Linked DNA regions of Homo sapiens. The protein of the gene in region 2 interacts with the protein of the main gene of each other region in a biochemical or structural test. Each region holds a gene or a part of one and is shown on either strand. Other genes may lie near its edges.

The links.
Region 1: the proteins of INPP5D (region 2) and CRK interact in a test that uses a peptide from one of them, tested with the Homo sapiens proteins (one large-scale study listed by BioGRID and IntAct).
Region 3: the proteins of INPP5D (region 2) and GRB2 interact in a test that uses a peptide from one of them, tested with the Homo sapiens proteins (2 studies listed by BioGRID).

The regions. Positions count from the first base shown.
Region 1 is NC_000017.11:1,449,583-1,453,232, forward strand, and holds part of CRK (adapter molecule crk), read right to left. Parts: intron 1-3,650. UniProt on the Homo sapiens protein: Involved in cell branching and adhesion mediated by BCAR1-CRK-RAPGEF1 signaling and activation of RAP1.
Region 2 is NC_000002.12:233,164,794-233,168,443, forward strand, and holds part of INPP5D (phosphatidylinositol 3,4,5-trisphosphate 5-phosphatase 1), read left to right. Parts: intron 1-3,650. UniProt on the Homo sapiens protein: Phosphatidylinositol (PtdIns) phosphatase that specifically hydrolyzes the 5-phosphate of phosphatidylinositol-3,4,5-trisphosphate (PtdIns(3,4,5)P3) to produce PtdIns(3,4)P2, thereby negatively regulating the PI3K (phosphoinositide 3-kinase) pathways.
Region 3 is NC_000017.11:75,395,669-75,399,318, forward strand, and holds part of GRB2 (growth factor receptor-bound protein 2), read right to left. Parts: intron 1-3,650. UniProt on the Homo sapiens protein: Non-enzymatic adapter protein that plays a pivotal role in precisely regulated signaling cascades from cell surface receptors to cellular responses, including signaling transduction and gene expression.

The DNA.
Region 1 (3,650 bases), on a different chromosome or scaffold from region 2:
AAGGCCCAACCCAGGATCCACAGCTCAAGCTTATAACGACTCTCCTAACTCACACTCCTTCAGCTGTGTCAACCTGAAAGGTTTAGCTGTTCAAGAGAAAAAAAACTAGTTTCTTGCAAGCATTCCAAGGAGGTCCATCTTGAAGCCCAACCTGACAGAATGTGACCAGTAGACTTGGCCAAGCCCTTCCTTATGGCCCCAGGGAACTCCCAAGCTATGGCACCACAGGAAGCCTATGCAAGCTGAGGACCCAAGACAAGTTAAAAACAGGTTCAACGGAAAAGGCTGAGAATCACTGGCCCATTCTGTACCCATGCCTTTAAAAATAATACCCAGCTGCGCACGGTGGCTCACGCCTGTAATCCTAACACTTTGGGAGGTCAAGGCAGGTGGATTACTTGAGGTCAGGAGATCGAGACCAGCCTGGCCAACATGGTGAAACCCCCATCTCTACTAAAAATACAAAAAAATTAGCTGGGAGTGGTGGCGCATGCCTGTAATCCCAGCTACCTACTCAAGAGGCTGAGGCAGGAGAATGGCTTGACCCGGGAGGGGGAGGTTGCAGTGAGCTGAGATCGTCCCACTGCACTCCAGCCTGGGCAACAGAGCAAGACTCTGTCTCAAAACATAAATAAAGTTTAAAAAATAAGGCGCGGTGGCTCAGGCCTGTAATCCCAGCACTTTGGGAGGCCAAGGTGGGCGGATCACGAGGTCAGGAGCTCAAGACCATCCTGGCTAACACGGTGAAACACCTCTCTACTAAAAATACAAAAAATTAGCCGGGCATAGTGGCGGGCGCCTGTAGTCCCAGCTGCTCAGGAGGCTGAGGGAGGAGAATGACGTGAACCCGGCAGGCGGAGCTTTCAGTGAGCCGAGATCGCGCCACTGCCCTCCGGCCCGGCGTGGGCGACAGAGCGAGATTCTGTCTCAAAAAAAGAAAAAAAACACATAAAAATGACACCTAAGCCATTCCATATAATTTTCACCTATGCACTGTGTAAACAAAATATACTCTGTAGGCTAGATGCGATGGCTCACACCTGTAATCCCAGCACTTTGGGGAAGCCGAGGCGAGCGGATCACTTGAGGCCAGGAGTTCAAGACCAGCCTGGACAACGTGGCAAAACCCCGTCTGTACTAAAAATACAAAAAAATTGGCTGGGCATGGTGGCGCATGCCTGTAATCCCAGCTATTTGGGAGACTAAGGCAGGAGAACTGCTTGAACCCAGGAGGTGGAGGGTACAGTGAGCTGAGATCGCGCCACTGCACTCCAGACGGGGCAACAAGAGCGAAACTCCCTCTCAAACAAAACAAAACAAAACAAATAGGCCGGGCGCGGTGGCTCACACCTGTAATCCCAGCACTTTAGGAGGCCGAGGCAGGCAGATCACAAGGTCAGGAGATCGAGACCATCCTGGCTAACACGGTGAAACCCCATCTCCACTAAAAATACAAAAAATTAGCCGGGCGTGGTGGCGGGCGCCTGTAGTCCCAGCTACTCGGGAGGCTGAGGTAGGAGAATGGCATGAACCCCACGGGGCGGAGCTTGCAGTGAGCCGAGGTCGTGCCACTATACTCCAGCCTCGGTGACAGAGCGAGAAACTGTCTCAAAAAAAAAAAAAAAAAAAGCAATAACAATTTTAAAAAGCTTCTTCATCATTGACTTTAGATAGCAGATGTGTATTGTCTGAATAATAAAGCCAGTGGCACGATCTCAGCTCACTGCAACCTCTGCCTCCGGGGTTCAAGCGATTCTCGTGCCTTAGCCTCTCCAGCAGCTAGGATTACAGGCGTCCGCCACCACGCCCAGCTAATTTTTGTATTTTTTAGTAGAAACAAGGTTTCACCATGTTGGCCAGGCTGGTCTCGAACTCTTGACCTCAAGTGATCCACCCTCCTTGGCCTCTCAAAGTGCTGGAATTACAGGCATGAGCCACTGCGCCCGGCCTCTTCTTGCCATTCTTTAATTCTGGTCTTTAAAAAACCTGGGCTGGATGCGGCTGTATGTGCCTGTAGTCCCAGCTACTCACAGCCTGAGTCAGAAGGGCTGCCTGCCCCAAAGTTAAGGGCTGTAGTGCACTATGACTGTGCCTGTCAACAGCCACTGCACTCCAGTTTGGGCAACATAGTGGGGGGAAAAAAAAACAAAAAACACAAGGCCGAGGTGGGCGGATCACCTGAGGTCAGGAGTTCGAGACCAGCCTGGCCAACATGGTGAAACCCCGTGTCTACTAAAAATACAAAAAAAAAAATTAGCTGGGCACAGTGGCACATGCCTGTAATCCCAGCTACTCGGGAGGCTGAGGCAGGAGAATCACTTGAACCTGGGAAGCAGAGGTTTCAGTGAGCCGAGACTGCACCACTGCACTGTAGCAGCCCGGGGGGCAAGAGCGAAACTCCATCCAAAAACAACAAAACAAAAAACACCAAGTCTTAGACTCCAGGGCAGAGGCAAAGTATTGAGGATATTGAGGATACGGACCTCTATGTGCACTGCTGAGATGCCAAAAGAACGCTGGCTTTGAGAGTGTAGTGTAAAAGGGTCAGCTCTCAGGTCAGAATGCCTAGGTTCAACTTCTGAAAGTCATTTATTAGTTGTGTGACCTTAAGCAAGTTACTGAATCTATGAGTGTTTCCTCCTGTATAAAATGGGAATATTTTAATAAATGGAGATCATATTACTTATCTCACTAGATTGTCCTAGACAGTAAGTGAAATAAGGTACATAAAGTACTCAAAGTACCTGGCACAGAATAACCAGTCAATAAACATTAGTTATTAATATTCTATACGCCTCTCTAAAAAATTCAAGAAATTTCTCTGTGTGACTTCAAAAGGACTTGGTGAGGGGGAGAACAAAGATTCAGTACTTAGTACTTGAGATTTGTGAGGTACAAAGTAATTCTGAGGTTATACAGACAGGCCAGGCGCTGGTGGCTCACGTCTGTAATCCCAGCACTTTGGGAGGCCGAGGTGGGTGGATGATCAGAGTTCAGCAGTTCGAGACCAGCCTGGCCAACATGGTGAAACCCCATCTCTACTAAAAAAATACAAAAATTAGCTGAGCATGGTGGTGGGCGCCTGTAATTCCAGCTACTCAGGAGGCTGAGGCAGGAGAATTGATTAAACCTAGAAGGCAGAGGTTGCAGTGGGCCAATATCGCGCCATTGCGCTCCAGCGTGGGAGACAAGAGTAAAAACTCGGTCTCAAAAAGAAAAAAAAAAAAAAAGACAGCAACTGACCAGGCACAGTGGCTCACACCTGCAGTTCCAAAACTTTGGGAGCCTGAAGCATGAAGTCTATTGAGATCAGGAATTTGAGACCAGCCTGGACAATACCGTGAGACCCCTCATCTCTACAAAAAAATTTTCAACAGTTAACCAGGCATGGTGGATACGCCTGGAGTCCCAGCTACTCAGGAGGATGAAGTGGGAGGATGGCTTGAGCCCAGGAGGTCAAGGCTGCAGTGAGCTGTGTTCATGCCACTGCACTCCAGCTTGGGTGACAGAGGCTCTGTCTCAGAAGAGAGAAAAAGACAGCAACTGAATCGTAGAAAATGGGGTACAACATGGCAGAAAGAATTATCACAATACTCGTGAATTTTCCACACCCCATCCATAAACTTTGGCAATCTTCACCGTCTTTCCTC
Region 2 (3,650 bases):
AGGGCCTGACAGTAAATATTTCAGGCTTTGCAGGCCACTCAACACTATTCCTCTCTGCCTTTCTGGTGGGAAAGCAGCCATAGGCAACCCAGAAAGCGAATGGGAGTGACTGTGTTACCAGTGAGACCTTCCTTACAAGCACAGGCGGGAGGTGGCTGGCCCCTGCCCTCGGTCCCTGTGCACCAGGTTGGATCTGGAAACGCTGGTGTCAGTGGAGAGTTGCTGGCTTCAGAGAGCAGTAACAAGGGCAAGAAGTCTTCATAAGTGTAGGAGTGCAAGCCTGTGTGTTTGTGTAGGATGTGTGTGTGAGTAGGTCTGTGTATGTGAGTTTGTGTGAGTGACAGCGTGCATGTGAGTGTGTGAGCCTGTGTAGGTGTGTGAGAGTTTATGGATGTGTGTTTGTGAGCATGTTTATGTGAGTCAATGTGTGAGCGTACCACCCCATATCTATGAGTGTGTGTCTATATGTGTGTGAATCTATGCATGTGTTTGAGTGTGTCTATGTGAGTCTATGTATGTGAGTCCGTGTATGAGTGTACCACCCATATCTATGTGTGTGAGTGTCTGTATGTGTGAGTCCATGCATGTGTGTTTGTGTGTGTTTATGTGAGTCTACATATGTGAGTCCGTGTGTGAGTGTACCACCCCGTATCTATGAGTGTGTGTGTGTCCATGCATGTGTTTGTGAGTGTATTTATGTGAGTCTATGTATGTGAGTCCGTGTGTGTGTACCACTCCATATCTATGAGTGTGTGAGTGTCTATGTGTGTGTGTCCATGCATGTGTGTTTGTGAGTGTGTGTTTATGTGCATCTGTGTGTGAGTGTACCACCCCGTATCTATGAGTGTGTGAGAGTCCATGCATGTGTTTGTGAGTGTGTTTATGTGAGTCTATGTATGTGAGTCCATGTATGAGTGTACCACCCCATATCTATGAGTGTGTGAGTATCTGTGAGTCCATGTGTCTGTGTTTGTGAGTGTGTGTTTATGAGAGTCTAGGTATGTGAGGGTGGGTGTCCGAGTGCATGTGCATAAGTGCTAGAGCCTCTCTGTGTGTTTGTGTGTGTGTGTGTGTGTGCCCGTGTGTGCACGTGGGGTGGTATACACACAGGGCTCCAGGGCTGGCATCAGGGGCGAGGCCAGTGGTTTTTGGTGGTTGGAGTCAGTGGAGTCAGGAACAGGACAGAGTCCCAGAGATAACAGGAAATAGAAGAATTGCTGCAATCGAACGTGCAAAGCTCTCTCAACTTTTCTGCTGACAAACCGCAAACTGCCCGCGTCCACCCCCACTCGTCCCCCTTCCTTCCTGCCACAGTAGAAGGGTGGGGCTGGCGTGGCTATCCTGGCTGCGCCCACGCCCTCCTGCTGCCCAGCAACCGCCCCGGGTGTGGATTCCATCGCTCCCTGGGCTTCCAGTCCCTCCCACCAGCCCCTGCCCCGCTGTGCAGAATATGCTCGGACCTCCTAGGGCCACATAAAACCACCCCCTCAGCCAGACCAGTTCCTGGTCATCCTGGCCTCAGGGCTGGGCACTGGGTCAGCTTCTGAGCAGGCAGGAGCTCTGCTCATGTGGACCTGACACACATTGCATGAGCAGACGGGAGGAAAAGAAGCCAGTTCCTGGGAGGGAGTGCACTGGCGAAGGAGTGTGTGGCGTGGGCAGAGAGCAGAGGTCAGGGGCCTCCCTGAGAAGGGCAGTGCGACTGGCATCTGAGGGGTGAGGAGAAAGGCCTGGCCAGAGTCCCAGCTTTATGACCATTGCAGGGCAGCTTCTGGGCTGTGCAGCTCACACACACCTTCCCCTCCTTCCCCTCCTTCCCCTCCTCTCTGCCCTGGGGCCAGCCTCCCTCCTCCACTCCCCTGAAATGGCTCCCAGCCATAATTAGCACAGGACAGAAACAGCAAATGCTGGTCGGTGTGGTAGGCTCACGCCTGTAATCCCAGCACTTTGGAAGGCCGAGGCCGGTGGATCACTTGAAGTCAGGAGTTCGAGACCAGCCTGGCCAACATGGTGAAATCCCATCCCACTAAAAATACAAAAATTAGTTGGATGTGGTGGTGCGCACCTGTAATCCCAGCTGCTTGGGAGGCTGAGGCAGGAGAATCGCTTGAACCCGAGAGGTGGAGGTTGCAGTGAGCTGAGATCATGCCACTGCACTCCAGCCTGGGTGACAGAGCGAGACTCTATCTCAAAAAAAAAAAAAAGTCCTTAGAACAACCAAGGCCTTTCTAAGAGTGTGCCCTAAGCAAGGCTGTGTGCTGAATGCTTTGAATCATCTCATTTGATATAAACACCCTGCTAGGCACGATGGCTCATGCCTATAATCCCACACTTTGGGAGGCCAAGGTGGGAGGACCTCCTGAGACCGGGAGTTTGAGACCAGCCTGGGCAACATAGGAAGGTACCATTTCTACAAAAAAAAAAAAAAAAAAAATGGCATAGTAGTGCATGCCTGTGGGCCCAGCTACTCAGGAGGCTGAGGTGGGAGGATCACTTAAATCTGGGAGGTCAAGGCTACAGAAAGCCATGATTTTGCCACTGCACTCCAGCCTGGGCGACACAGACTTTGTCTCAAATTAGAAAAAAAAATACAAACACTCGGGCAGGGACTCTTATTATTCCCATTTGCAGATGAAGAAACAGAGTCTATGGAGATGATCCATAACTTGCCCAAGGCCCCGGGATAAGAATGTGGTGGGCAGGGATTGAAACCAGGCTGTCGGGACTGGAACCAGTTGCTCAGTTCCAGGTCACCCTCCCAGGTTGCGGGCAGAGGGGCAGGGCTGGAGAGCTAGGTGCAGTGGAGAGGGCTGGAGGGCAGAAAGCCTGTGTACTCCCCCACTGGGTCCTGACAAGGTTGAGCCAGGTGATATCCAGGGGTCCCTTCAGCCTATGGCCTATCCAGAGCTGTCCAACCAAAAGAAAATGGGGCCGGGTGCCGTGGCTCACGCCTGTAATCCTAGCACTTTGGGAGGCTGAGGCAGGCAGATTGCCAGAGCTCAGTAGTTTGAGACCAACCTGGGCAACACGGTGAAACCTCGTCTCTACTAAAATACAAAAAATTAGCTGGGTGTGGTGGTGGGTGCCTGTAGTCCCAGCTACTCCTGAGGCAGAGACAGGAGAATTGCTTGAACCTGGGAGACGGAGGTTGCAGTAAGCAGAGATCGCGCCACTGCACTCCAGCCTGGGAGACAGAGTGAGACTCTGTCTCCAAAAAAAAAAAAAAAAAAAAGAAAGAAAGGAAGAAAAGAAAATGATGGGAGCCAAATAGATCATAAATAAATAGATTTATGATCAAAATAGATTACAATTTGATTTATTACAATCAATAGATCAAATTTTCTAGTAGCCACATTAAAAAGAAAACAAGTGAAATTAATTTCAATAATAGATTTTATTGAATTTCATACATCCAAAATACAATTATTTCAATAGATATTTAATGTAAAAGGTTATTAGATATTTTACAGTCTGTGTTTCTTACCAAGGCCACAATTCCAATGTGTATTTTACACTCACAACCTGTCTCATTTTGTACCAGCCACATTTCAGGTGTTTGATAGTCACATGTGGCCTGTGCCTGTATTGGACAGAGCAGGTTCTCACCTGCATGTGTCAGAATCACCTAGAGCAGGGGTTAACAAGCGTTT
Region 3 (3,650 bases), on a different chromosome or scaffold from region 2:
TACTGCTTTCTCAGTTTATTCCAGCCATTATCTATTGCCTGAAAGGTGAAGATTTAGTTTCCCCCGACCTATACCAGTAATATCACATATTCTGGTTTAATCAGTAGTATGTTATGAAATACTACTCACTGATAATTTAAATAATGCACTAAAACCAATCATACTTTTTGTGTTTTTTTTTTTTTCTTTTTTGAGATAGAGTTCTCTAAGATTGCCCAGGCTAGAGTGCAGTGGCATGATCTCGGCTCATTGCAACCTCCACCTCCCAGGTTCAAGCGATCCTCCTACCTCGGCCTGTAGCTGGGACTACAGGCATGTGCCAACAAGCCTGGCTACTTTTTATATTTTTAGTAGAGACGGGATTTCACCATGTTGGCCAGGCTGGTCTTGAACTCCTGGCCTCAAGTGATCCGCCCACTTTGGCCTCCCCAAGTGCTGGGATTACAGGCATCGGCCGCTGTGCCTGACCCAATCATACTTTTTTGTACAATCCTTAGATTTTTCCCAGCATTAGCAACTGCTTAATGTTCTATTTTTTACTTGCCTAGTTCCCTGTGTATCTACTTTTACTTTTTCTTTTCTCTTTTTTTTTGAGACAGGGTCTTGCACTGTTGTCCAGGCACGAGTGCAGTGGCATGGTCATGGCTTACTGCATCCTTGATCTCCTTGGCTCAAGTAATCCTCATGCCTCAGCTTCCCAAGTAGCTGGAACTACAGGTGTGGGCCACTATGCCCGGCTACTTTTTCTATTTTTTGTAGAGACAGGGTCTCACTATGTGAGACCAGTCCAGTATAGCTTAGTGTTGAATTTGCATGGTCTCTAGAGGCAGGCCCCTCACGCTAACTGCTACAATTTTGGGCAAACTTTTCAAACAAGCTCCAGTTTCGTCATCTGTAAAATGAGAATAATATCTACCTTTTAAGACCCAGGCTGGTCTCAAACTCCTGGCCTCAAGCAATCTGCCTGCCTCGGCCTCCCAAAGTGCTAGGAATACAGGGGAGAGTGAGCCACCACGCCCAGCCCTATTTTTACTTTTAATGAATGCTCCAAAATCTCTCCTACTATCAAGATTTTCCTCAGCCTATTTATTTTAACTGGTCTCTAATGCCGAGACTATGTATTAGTGATAGGAAGCTGAAGAATATTTACAATGATAGGAAAAGAATAAGGAGTTTTATTTTTGAAAAACAGAAATCAGATAGAAATGAAAAGCCCTGTCACTTTCAAGGTGCTATGTAGTACGACCAGCCATAAGCTTCTGTGTCATTCAGGATTTAAGACAGCTGCAATGTTACTACTCAACAGCAGTACAAAAACCAAGACAGTTCTCAATACCTGCTTTCCTGCTGCTACTCAGCTCATCTGCTGAAAGCTTAAAAAGAATAACCTTCTTGAAAGTCGTGTTTTGAGTAACTATTGCTTTGTGAGATGCAGAGTTTGACAGAAAATTAAATCCCTACTTCCATGGCTGTGCTGAGTAAAAAAACAGAAAACTCAAAGAGGAAAGCTTATTAGGTTATCCACCCAAAAGAGCATATTCGCTAAAGGAATTCCAAAGGGTGTGTTTCAGTAAAGACAAAAAAAAATCTAACACATACACAACACTAATTACTAAAAGGAAGAAATCTGAAAGCAGACACAATGTATAATGATTTTAACAGAGTAGATGTTGCTGTTCACTTCCCAAGAAAATGGGGTATAGTGTACTTAACACTGAAGCCTAATGAGAGTAACCTCGAAACTGTTACCAGCCCATCCCAAGCAGTGAATTTTAAGAAAGGTAAGTACAGCTTTAATCATTCATTTCAAACAATGTCTACTGTATCCAAAAAAACTACTATCCTAAAGGTATTTGCAAGATTTTTTTTCTTTCTTCCATTTAACTCTCTTCTTCCCAAAATTCACAGAAAATAAAATACATGACAACAGTCCAGTATAGCTTAGTGTTGAATCTTCATGGTCTCTAGAGGCAGGCCCCTCACACTTACAGCTACAGTTGTGGGCAAAGTTGTGAAACAAGCTCCAGTTTTCTCATCTGTAAAATGAGAATATCTACCTTATAAGATCCACTGAGGATTAAATTAGACAACATATATAACATACATTAAGTGCTCTGGATAGAGCCCGACATGTAATAATCACTCAAAATTTATTTATTTATTTATTTATTTATTTATTTATTTATTTTTTGAGACAGCATCTAGCTCTGTCGCCCAGGCTGGACTGCAGTGTCACGATCTCAGGTCACTGCAACCTCCGCCTCCTAGGATCAAGCAATTCTCCTGCCTCGACCTCCCAAGTAGCTGGGACTACAGGTGCGCGCCACCAAGCCTGGCTAACTTTTGCATTTTTAGTAGAGATGGGGTTTCGCCATGTTGGCCAGGCTGGTCTCAAACTCCCACCTCAGCCTCCCAAAGTGCTGGGATTACAGGCATGAGCCACTGCACCCAGCCTTCAAAAGAAATTTTAAATGTTACTCTATTTAAAACATATGAAAAGAAATGCAAATTAAAACAATCAGAGTTTTCATATACTAATTGGCAAATTTTAAAAATATTTATAAAATCCAATCTGCAATACTTTGAGTAAACACACTTTTATTTATTTATTTATTTTTCAGAAAGGGTCTCACTCTGTAGCAAAGGCTGGAGGGCAGTGGCGTGATCTTGGTTTACTGCAACCTCCGCCTCCTGGGCTCAAGGGATCCTCTCACCTCAGCCTCCTTAGTGGGGACTACAGGCACCAGCCACCATAGCCTACTCATTTTTTTTTGTAGAGATGGGGTCTCCCTATGCTGCCCAGGCTGGTCTCAAACTCCTAAGCTCAACAGATCTGCCTGCCTTGGCCTCCCAAAGTGCTGGGATTACAGGTATGAGCCACCGCACCAGGCACAAAGACTTTTTACCCTACCCGGTGTCCACTGACTCAACATTTTGAGAAGTTACTAACTGACAATGTGGCTTGGTGTTACATTATAATAATAAAATCACCACAGAACCCACACTACAGCAAGGAATTAATGAGCTCAGCTCAATCTTTTTGGTGAGTTCTTTGGTAATCTATTGACAACTTTTATTTATTTTTATTTATTTTTTGGAGACAGAGTCTTGCTCTATCCCTCAGGCTGGAGTGCAGTGGCGTGATCTCCGCTCACTGCAACCTCCACCTCCTGGGTTCAAGCGATTCTCCTGCCTCAGCCTCCCAAGTAGCTGGGATTACAGGTGCCTGTAACCATGACCAGCTGATTTTTCTATTTTTAATAGAGACAGGATTTCGCCATGTTGCCCAGGATGGTCTTGAACTCCCGACCTCAGGTGATCCGCCCACTTTGCCCTCCCAAAGTGCTGGGATTACAGGCGTGAGCCACTGCGCCCAGCCTATTTACTTTTATTATTTGAGACAGAGTCTCGCTCTATTGCCCAGGCTGAAGTGCAGTGGAGCAATCATGGTTCACTTCAGCCTCAAACTCCTTGGCTCAAGCCATCCTCCTGCCTTAGCCTCCCAAGTAGCTGGGACTACAGGTGCACACCACCATGCCTGGCTAATTTTTGTGTGTGTGTGTGTGTGGTGACCAGGACTCACCATGTTGCCCAAGCTGATCTCAAACTCCTGGACTCACGTGATCCTCCCCATCTCAGCCTTTCCAAGT